Regions from separate parts of the Homo sapiens genome. Here region 1 is linked to region 2. The links come from fine-mapping of genetic effects on gene expression. A gene starts in region 2. The other region holds a variant in brackets. All regions are shown on one strand. Distances are between the middles of the regions.

Evidence for each region. PIP is the estimated chance that this variant, and not a neighbour inherited with it, causes the effect.
Region 1: its variant is the best candidate, but not a certain one, in a credible set for the expression of DCBLD2 in monocytes after LPS (Fairfax 2014, PIP 0.80).

Annotation. Positions count from the first base shown.
Region 1 is chr3:98,832,116-98,837,489 of GRCh38, forward strand. The region is part of intron 3 of DCBLD2 (discoidin, CUB and LCCL domain containing 2); the gene reads right to left. Among named protein-coding and RNA genes, the nearest start is that of DCBLD2, 67 kb to the right of the region's middle. The variant CTT/C (reference allele first, on the strand shown) is at 2,027.
Region 2 is chr3:98,899,216-98,904,589 of GRCh38, forward strand. It overlaps DCBLD2 (discoidin, CUB and LCCL domain containing 2), which reads right to left and starts at 2,480. Exons shown (of 16, transcript NM_080927.4): 1 at 1,907-2,480. The coding sequence starts at 2,111. LOC105374002 (a long non-coding RNA gene) reads left to right here and starts at 2,799. Exons shown (of 2, transcript NR_189121.1): 1 at 2,799-3,302. RefSeq lists enhancers at 1,379-2,095, 2,096-2,811 and silencers at 1,919-2,608, 2,749-2,798.

The sequences.
Region 1 (5,374 bases), 67 kb before region 2:
GGGTGCTCCTGTGTTGAGTGCATATATATTTAGAATAGTTAGGTATTCTTGTTGAACTGAATGCTTTACATTATGTAATGCCCTTGTCTTTTTTGAGCTTTGTTCGTTTAAAGTCTGTTTTGTCTGAAATTAGGGTTGCAATGCCTGCATTTTTCTGATTTCCATTTGCTTGTTAGATTTTCCTCCATCCCTTTATTTTGAGCCTATGGATGTCATTGCATGTGAGATGGGTTCCTGAAGACGGCGTATCATTGGGTCTTGCTTTTTTATTCAGCATGCCACTCTATGCCTTTTTAAATAGGGCATTTAGGCTATTTACATTCAAGGGTAGTATTGATATGTGTGCATATGATCCTGTCATTGTGTTGTTAGCTGATTATTATGCTGGCTTGTTTGTGTGGTTCCTTTATAGTGTCACTGGTGTGTGTACTTGAGTGTATTTTCCTAGTGGTGTTTTAATGGTTTTTCTTTTCCATATTTAGTGCTAGCTTCAAGATGTCTTGAAAGGTGGGTCTGGTGGTAATGAACTCGCTTAGCATTTGCTTATCTGACAAGAATCTTATTTCTCCTTTGCTAAGGAAGCTTAGTTTGGCTGGTTATGAAATTCTTGAAGATTTTTTTCCTTTAAGAATGTCAAATATAGGTCCCCAATCTCTTCCAGTTTGCAGGGTTTCAGCTGAGAGGTCTGTTGCTAGCCTGATGGGGTTCCCTTTGTTGGTGATCTGCCCTTTCTCTCTAGCTGCCTTTAACATTCTTTTATTTAGACATTGGAAAATCTGATGATTATGTGTCTTGGGGAGATCTTGTGTAGAATCTTGCAGGGGTTCTCTGTATTTCCTGAATTTTGACTGTTGGCCTCTCTAGCGAGGCTGGGGAAATTTTCATAGATGATATCCTGAAATATGTTTTCCAAGTTGTTTGCTTTCTCCCCATCCAATTCAGGGATATCAGTGATTTGCAGATTTGGCTTCTTTATATAATCCCTTATTTCTTAGAGGTTTTATTCATTCCTTTTCATTCTTTTTTTCTTTACTTTTGTCTGACTCTCTTATTTCAGAGAGCCAGTCTTCAAGTTCCAAGATTCTTTCCTCAGCGTGGTCTATTCTGCTGTTAATACTTGCAATTGGGTTGTGAAATTCTTGTAGTGTGTTTTTCAGCTCTATCAGGTCAGTTAGATTCTTTTTTGCACTGGCTATTTTATCTGCCAGCTCCTGTATTGTTTTATTGTTAATTCTTAGTTTCCTTGAATTGGGTTTTGCCATTCTCCTGAATCTCGATGCTCTTCATTCCTGTGCATATTCTGAATTCTATTTCTGTCATTTCAGCCAACTCAGCCTGGTTAAGAACCCTCATTGGTGAACTAGTGCAATCGTTAGGAGGACATAAGACACTCTGGCCATTTGAATTGCTGAAGTTCTTGTGTTAGTTCTTTCTCATCTCTCTGTGTGGGTGTTCCTTTAACTGCTGGGCTGCCTCTAATTGAAGTGGTCAGGTGGGGGTACAGTGGTTGTGCTGGAGTCCCAGGTCAGGCAGCCCTGTCCAGTGAGGAGAAGTGAGGACCAGGATCTACATGGAGAACCGTCTGACCACTTTTTGGTGAGATGGGTACTGTGCTTGGGGTTCAGACCAGGCTTCAGTCCCATGGACTCTCCAGAGCCTGGAAACAGCAAAGGTGAGGGCTGCAAGGCAGAAAAGATGGAAACACCACCCTCCCAGTGGGAGCTCTGTCCCAGGTTGCTGCAGAGCTGCTACTGGCTCCAAAGTCCCAGTGAAGGGAGGCTGGAAACCCAAGCCTGGAGGACTTGCCCAGTGAGGAGATATGGGAGTGGAGACCCATGTAAGAAACAGTCTGGCCACTTTTCCATGACTACTCCAGTAAACTAGGGGCCTGCTCTGGTCCCCAGTCACCTCGGATTTTCCAGCACCACTTCCCTGGGTGGGGGAGGCTCCTCTGGCCCTGTGTCGTTCCTGAGTGGGTGGTTGTCCTGCTTTGCTTTTTTCCATTCTCTGTGAGTAGAGTTGTTTT[CTT/C]TTTTTTTTTTTTTTTTGTTTTAAATTTTTTTATTGATACATAATAGATGTACCTATTTTGGGGAGTACATATGATAACTTAATACATTCATAGAATTCACAAAGATCAAATCAGTGTAATTGGGATATTCATCACCTTGAATACTTTTCTTTATGCTAAAACATTTGCTTTATTCCCTTCTAGCTATTTCAAAATATACAACAGATTATTGTAAACCATAGTCACCTTACTGATCTATCAAACACCAGGTCTTATTTCTTCTATCAAACTGTATATTTGTACCCATTAATCAACCTCTCTTCATCCCCCCACCTCCTCCCCTTTCAGCCTCCAGTAACCACCAGTCTATTCTCTAACTTCATGAGATTTACGTTTTTAGCTCCCAAATATGAGTGAGAACATGTGATATTTGCTTATCCATGCTTGGCTTATTTCACAACACAGTGACTTCCAGTTCCATGCCTGTTGCTGCAAATGACAGGATCTCATTCTTTTTCATTGCTGAATAATATTCCATTGTGTATACATCACCTTTTCTTTATTCACTCATCCATTGATGGATACTTAGATTGATTCTATATTTTAGCTATTGTGAATAGTGCTGCGATAAAGATGGGAGTGCAGATATCTTTTCCATATATTGAAACTTATAGATGTTATCCTAAAAAGTTAAAAGCCTCCCCTCAGTCTGAACTGCTTTGACATCTGGAACTTCCTTTTTCAAACCCAAAGCTGCCTGTCATAATCCCAACTGATTCCTACTGCTTGTCTTTAAATTTTCCATCCCAATAGGCCACCAGCCCTTCTGCTATAAACTTGCACATTCTTTTTTTTTTTTATTTTTTTGAGACAGAGTTTTGCTCTGTCATCCAGGCTAGAGTGCAATGGCCCTATCTTGGCTCACTGCAACCTCTGCCTCCCAGGTTCAGGCGATTCTCCTGCCTCAGCCTCCCAGGTAGCTGGGATTACAGGCATGTGCCACCACACCTGGGTAATTTTGTATTTTTAGGAGAGATGGGGTTTCACCATGTTGGTCAGGCTGGTCTCGAACTCCTGAACTCAGATGATCTGTCCGCCTCAACTTCCCAAAGTGCTGGGATTACAGGCAGGAGCCACCGCGCCCGGCATACTCGCACATTCTTAAGTCCCTACTCTTTCCTGGCATTCCTCCCTTACCTAGAATGGGTTTCTCATCACCAAAAGCATCCTACCCACTGTTCAAGGTCAAATTCAAATGTCAACTCCTGGGTGTCCCCAGCCAGAAATGATTCCCTTCTCATTTGTTCTTCTAAGATAACTATTTTCTTGCCATTTAATTATTCTTCACTCAGTAAACATCTATTGAGCACCAAATATGTGCCAGGTTCACTTATCCATCCTCTCACTCCGTATGCTATTTTTTTTTCTTCTTTTTTTTTTTTTGAGACAGAGTTTCTTTTTTGTTGCCCAGCCTTGAGTGCAATGGTGCAATCTCGGCTCACTGCAACTTCTGCCTCCCGGATTCAAGCGATTCTCTCGTCTTAGCCTCCCGAGTAGCTGGGACTACAGGCACGTGCCACCATGCCTGGCTAATTTTTGTATTTTTAGTAGAGACAGGGTTTCACCATGTTGGCCAGGCTGGTCTCAAGCTCCTGACCTCAGGTGATTCACCTACCTTGGCCTCCCAAACTGCTGGGATTATAGCGTGAGCCACCACGCCTGGCCACTCCATATGCTACTATAATTATTTGGTGCTTATATGAGGGGAGGAGATGAATTTTTCTTTCTTTCTTTCTTTCTTCCTTCCTTTCTTTCTTTTTTTTTTTTTTTAAGATTTTTAAATTTTTGTTTATTCACATTGAGGAGAATCTAAATTCTTTTGAACTTATGTATAGATTTCACCATTTTATAGTAATAAATCAGTCCTCCTGTGTGTGTGTGTATGTGTGTGTGTATGTAAACCTCACCTTGCAATATTATTATTTTAAATAGCCACTTGCATCTTAAGGAAATTAAGAGGACAAAAGAAAAGCTGCTGTTTTGTATGTATCCACATATTTACCAGCTGCTTCCCTGCCGGCAGGTGCTCTGGTTCTGCACTGCCTGTTGTCCCTTGCCTGAAAATGGTTGCCTCCAATATTTTGCTCAGTTTTCTGATTGTTTACAGTGGCAGAGGAGGGTAGATCTGGTACCAGTTAGTAATTGCCAGAGGTGGAAGTCTGTGGATGAAATTTGTATAACATGGAACGTTAGTTCCACAGTTAATGCTACTCAATTGGAACCCATGGAAATTATTTTTTGGTGAAAAGGGCCCATGCGTTATGAAATTTGAGATCCAGAACAAAATGAAAAGTCTCTCATGTCTACTTCTTTCTACACAGACACCGCAACCATCCGATTTCTCAATCTTTTCCCCACCTTTCCCGCCTTTCTATTCCACAAAGCCGCCATTGTCATCCTGGCCCGTTCTCAATGAGCTGTTGGGCACACCTCCCAGACGGGGCGGCTGGCCGGGCAGAGGGGCTCCTCACTTCCCAGTAGGGGCGGCCGGGCAGAGGCGCCCATCACCTCCCGGACGGGGCGGCTGGCCGGGCGGGGGGGCTGACCCCCCCATCTCCCTCCCGGACGGGGTGGCTGGCCGGGCGGGGGGCCGACACCCCCACCTCCCTCCCGGACGGGGTGGCTGGCCGGGCAGGGGGCCGACCCCCCCACCTCCCTCCCGGACGGGGCGGCTGGCCGGGCGGGGGGCCGACACCCCCACCTCCCTCCCGGAGGGGGCGGCTGGCCGGGCGGGGGGCTGACCCCCCCACCTCCCTCCCGGACGGGGCGGCTGGCCGGGCAGAGGGGCTCCTCACTTCCCAGTAGGGGCGGCCGGGCAGAGGCGCCCCTCACCTCCCGGACGGGGCGGCTGGCCGGGCGGGGGGGCTGACCCCCCCCATCTCCCTCCCGGACGGGGCGGCTGGCCGGGCGGGGGGCCGACACCCCCACCTCCCTCCCAGACGGGGTGGCTGGCCGGGCAGGGGGCCGACCCCCCCACCTCCCTCCCGGACGGGGCGGCTGGCCGGGCGGGGGGCCGACACCCCCACCTCCCTCCCGGACGGGGTGGCTGGCCGGGCAGGGGGCCGACCCCCCCACCTCCCTCCCGGACGGGGCGGCTGGCCGGGCGGGGGGCCGACACCCCCACCTCCCTCCCGGACGGGGCGGCTGGCCGGGCAGAGGGGCTCCTCACTTCCCAGTAGGGGCGGCCGGGCAGAGGCGCCCCTCACCTCCCGGACGGGGTGGCTGGCCGGGCAGGGGGGCTGACACCCCCACCTCCCGGACGGGGCGGCTGGCCGGGCGGGGGGCTGACCCCCCCACCTCCCTCCC
Region 2 (5,374 bases):
ATGAAGTAATGTTGCTTGTCTGATTAGACTGGCTATTTCTTTTTCTTTTTTTTTTTTTTTTTTTGAGACAGTCTCGCTCTGTCGCCAGGCTGGAGTGCAGTGGCGCGATCGCTGCAACCTCCGCCTCCCGGGTTCAAGCGATTCCCCTGCCTCAGCCTCCTGAGTACCTGGGACTACAGGCATGTGCCACCATGCCCGGCTAATTTTTTGTATTTTAGGAGAGACGGGGTTTCACCATGTTGGTCAGGATGGTCTCGATCTCCTGACCTCGTGATCTGCCCGCCTCAGCCTCCCAAAGTGCTCGGATTACAGGTGTGAGCCACCGCGCCCGGTAGACTGGCCTTTTCTAAAAACAAGGCAATCCCTCATTTGGAAGGTAGACATGTAACTGATTCTATACTGTTCCAAGATTTTTTTTAATAACATGATACAAACACTATCAGATCCAGAAACAAGCAAAGCAGAGTACTCTGCCTATGGAGTAATATGCCCTCCTGCATCAAGGTACCTTATATTCTTTGTGTCTCAATGTCCTTACGTTTGAACTGGGATAACAATAACTATCTCAGCTGATTGTAGTGAAGATTCAAGGAGTTAATAAACCCAAACCACTTAGTCCAGTTGTTCCAGCCACAAAGTAAGCCCTAAGTGTTAGCCATATATAAGCCTGTTTTCCCCCCTACCAGGAGGGAAATACATCTCTACAGTGGAAAGAAGGATTTCACACTTTAATATATTAAATGATGATGATGTTCAGTAATTTTAGAAGACGATCTAACTAAAACCTAAATGCTAAGCATCTAAATTTTGAGTTACTCTATATAGAAACGTGTCTAGATGTAAGGGGTCAGTTTGCCAAATACATTTTTTCCTTATAGTTACAGAGATTATATTTCCACATGCCTGTCAAGGTTCGGCATCTTCTTAATGACAGGCCATGATTCCATACTTCACTGAAAACCATGAGAGCAACATAAAGCTGGGCTTAAAGGCAGAGAACAATTTTCTTTTTAAAAAACTCTCTTCCTAGCAATAAGTAACAATCCAATCCTTATCCTTCCCACTGCAATAAAATGGAAAATGCAATGGAAATATCTTTTCAAAAACTGATGCCAAACTGATTCAAAAAGTGTGGTACACTACGGGAAAACAGTACTAAAGGGGAAAAGAAATCACCCTGCATTCTCCTTCCATTATGATAAGTATTTAATAAACAGTTTTGCCTGTTTCTGGAACAGGTTTTTCAAGGATTGTAGGTGGAAAAAAAAAAAAGTTTTGTCACTTTCTGGAAAGGCTTACCTTTTTAATGTGGAGAGCTTCACTTGGGCAAATTAGCATAGCGTTGGGTCAGACCCAGTGTTTGACCAAGGCAGTCTAGACCACCAGCCTCAATGATGGATTGTAAAGAACATGTTCTGAATCCAAGACTCAGAGATAAGCAGAAACTATTCCATTCGCTTCAGAACCCGGGCTCTTTCACAAAGGATCATAATTACCACCACTTACCTTTAATAGGCTTAAGATGCTATTTAATTAACCTGCCTTCCTACAGTGTCCATCCATCCGTGCAGCTTAACTTTAGGGGTCATTACCTCCAAAGGTTCTTTTTCCTCCCCAAAATTTTCCCCAGAAGGACCTAATATCAACGAGGCTTTCATAGCAGGGTCTCACGTCCCCCTTTCAGAAAAATAAATGGCCTTGCCAAAAAGTAAAGCCGCGCCAACTTGGGGGACAGACGGGCAAGACCTTGCCTTTGCAACTCAACCCCGTGAGTACCCAGCCAGGTCCGGCCACGCACGAAAGCGCACCGCGCCTCCCTGCAGCGTCTGCAGATTTGTTCAGGGGCCAAGAGACCCGCAGCCCCGACGGAGGTTCCCCCGCCGCTCACTCCCCTGGGACCACTCACCTTGCTGGGCTCCAGCGTCCTCGAGCAGCAGGAGCAGGACAAGTAAGAGCAGGAGGAACAGAGGCATGGAGAAGGAGGAGGAGTTGGAGCAGGGAGGGAGGGAGCGGGAGAGGGGGAGCGCGGCCCAGGCGGGGGCGGCGGCCGCGGCCCGGACTTGGGGACACTGCGGGCAGCGCCTGGCTCTCACCACCGCCCGGCTCGCCATCGCGGCGGCCGGCAGTCTGCCTGCATAGTGCGGGTGCCTCGGCAGCCCCGCGCGCCTCTGGCCGCGGCACCCGACCAGGAGACGGCGGCAGCGGCGGGAGAACAAGAGGCAGCCCTCGCCTCACCCCGCGCCGGGACCCTTCCGCCCCTCACCCCGCTTTCACCTACTCCTCCTTCGTCCCTTCCCTCCGCTCCCCGCGCCGAGACCCCAGGCCGGAGCGCAGGGGAGGGGAGGGAAGGAAGCGGAGTCCTCGAGCCGCGGAGGACGGCCGCGGCGGAGCTAAGGAACGTGCCTCCCGCGCCGCGCTCCTCACCAGGGTCGCCGCTCGCCGCGCTCACCCGCGGCTCCGGCTAGCTGGCAGGCAGGCCCGCAGCCAGCTCCCTCGCGCTCCCTCTCGCGCGCGCCGGCCACGCCCCCTAGGCACCGCGGCCAATCCTCGGCCAGCTCTGGTCCGTCTCCTTCCGCGAAACCCAATCAGCATGCTCGCTCCTCGCTCGACCCGCTAGTTCTCCGGCCCATTCCTCGAGCTCCACCGCCCCTTACCTCCCTCTTCCAATCCCCTTCGGCCTTTGGAGGCGTCCCACCCGCCTCCTCCAATCCAGGTCCCGCCCTCCAGCTTCGGATCCCCGCGGCCCCCGCCCGGCCCGGGCGCCTGTTATTGTTGGGCCCTCAGCCCAAACTGATCCCGCAGAGGCGGCAGCCAGCTCGTCAGTGACTTCCGGGACGTCCCCCATCCCGCGCTCCCTGCTCCTCAGGCCCAGCTTGCTCCTTGCTCCTTTCTCCTCGCTCCTCCGACGCACATCAGACCACTGGAAGGGGGTGGGAAACCTGGATCCTGGGTTGTTTTAGCTGGGAGCTGAGTCTAAGGGACTTTTTTTTTTTTTTTAATGGCAGAGCGTGGCTTGTTTTGTTAAAACTGCCGCCAGTTGTTGCAACAGCTCCGAGTTAGAATAATAGATGCAGTGTTCAGTTTTTAATATATGTGTTCCCTGTTTTCTCTGCTCTTTTTATGGCGGGGGGTGGGGGACAAAAAAGTGTAAAACAAGATCCGTGCCGCAAAGGCAATTTAAACCTAACATCCCAACCTTCATGCAGCCATTCTACAAGGAGTTGTTGAGCACCTGCTGTCTATCTACAGAAATCTTGAAATGTGGAACAGAGATGGAAATATAGCATGCAAGTCAGAATGAAGTAAGTGCTAATTAGAGTCACAAGCAGTTTGATGGAGACTGTAAGCCTATGGAACGACAAAAAGAATTTTAGGAAAGAGGAATGCAGAGGTCTACGCAGTGATTTATTTTAGAAGAGAGTGGCCATGTAGGATGTTTTTAACAGCAGTCCCTGAAAGGACAATGGTGTCATTAGCAAATACAAAAAACTGCTAAGGTGGAACAAGTTGTGTGGGAAAGTAAGTTAATTTTGGACGTATTGAATTTGAGATGCCAACTTAGATAATAAGTGAAGCTATGTAACAGGCAGATGGATATTTTAGTCGAAAGCTCAGATTGAGAGCTTTGAAATTATGGCTCTGGGAGTCATACATAGCCATACATGTATACATATACATATGTATACATAGTCATACATAGATGTGATATTCAAAAACATGGAAGGGACTGATATCCTTCAATGAAAGTCTAAGTTGGAAAGGACTTTGGAGGTCGTATGTTTCAACTCCCCTGCATATTTCTTATACAATAATCTCTTTAACCAAATTTATTCAATTAACATTTATTAAATGCCTAAGAAACCCTATTATGCTCTAAGCCATTGTGGGCATTGGGCATAAAAAGTTTACTGAGAAGAACTTACATTCTGGAGGAGGAGGTGACATGTAAACAAACCTATTGTTATTAGTGCCCTGTTAGAGGTGTGGACTGGTGCCACAATACCACAGTGAACGGAGTTCAAAAAAACCCGTCAGTTTGAAATGCCAGTGTCTTGAATAAGAAACTAAAGTGAAAAAGGTGATCTCAGGCCAGAGGCAAAATAGGCTGGGTCACAGGCTCAATAGGGAATGGTGTTGATGGAGCTGGATTGACTACTGCTGACGTAATGGGAGGAACTGGAGACTAGTCTGGAAAAGTTAGGAGGGGCAAGATGTAAGGCAAGCTAAGAGTCAAGATTTTATTTTGTATCACTGGAAAATAACTAAAGGGTTCTAAGAAAGAATGACATTGTCAGTTTTTTTTTTGTTTTTGTTTTTGTTTTTGTTTTTTTTGAGATGGAGTTTTGCTCTTGTTGCCCAGGCTGGAGTGCAATGGCATGATCTCGGCTCACTGCAACCTCTGCCTCCCGGGTTCAAGCGATTCTCCTGCCTCAGTCTCCCTAGTAGCTGGGATTACAGGCATGTGCCACCGCACCCGGCTAATTTTGTATTTTTAGTAGAGCCGGGGTTTCTCCATTGTTGGTCAGGCTGGTCTCGAACTCCCGACCTCAGGTGATCCACCCGCCTCAGCCTCCCAAAGTGCTGGGATAACGGCGTGAGCCATCGCGCCCGGTCATTATCAGGTTTTTATTGTAAAAACCCCAATCAGCCAGTAGGGTGAGGAATACATTGGTGTAAGAGCAAGACTGGAAGCCAGGGAGAGCCAGTCTGCAGTTAAAGGGAGTGATGGTGAGTTTTTAGTGCATTAAAAGTGGGCTTGGGAAGGCGGGACCAACTAGGGGAATATTTTTAAACTTGGTGACTGATTATGTGGAGTGTAAGGAGTTGAGGAAGTCTCCAGGTTTCTGGTAGAAGGTGATGTCTTTCCCACAGTAAGGAGTACAAGAAGGAGAATTGGTTTGGTTGGATAAAGAAGTAGAAGTTAAAAATCATAAATTCAGAATTGAACCTATCAGACATGATGTGCTAATGTGGCAAGCAGTCAGTCATGAAATAAGATTTCTAGTAGTAGTGCCTGAGACAACCTATTTCATGTGGAATCACTCCTTTCATAGGACCATTGAAAGAGAAGCTTGAGGTCACAGATGTGGTGGCAGAGCAAGGTAGTGTGAATCTTAGCCTGGCATTCTATTGACTACATAGAACTGTGGCAGAGGCAGAGAATTCACCTAAGAACTAGCACAGTTATGGAGCATTTCTGGAAGAGGCAAAATTTGGTCTCTAGCAACCCCTACCCCTTTAATATAGCAGGAAAAGATCCCGACTACATACGTGTAAAGCAAGAGGAAGGAGCACTTACATTTCTCATCACTGTTTTACTTACTGTCTAGTGTTTTAAAGTTGTTAAAAGTAGAGACTAGAGAGGTGAAGAGGT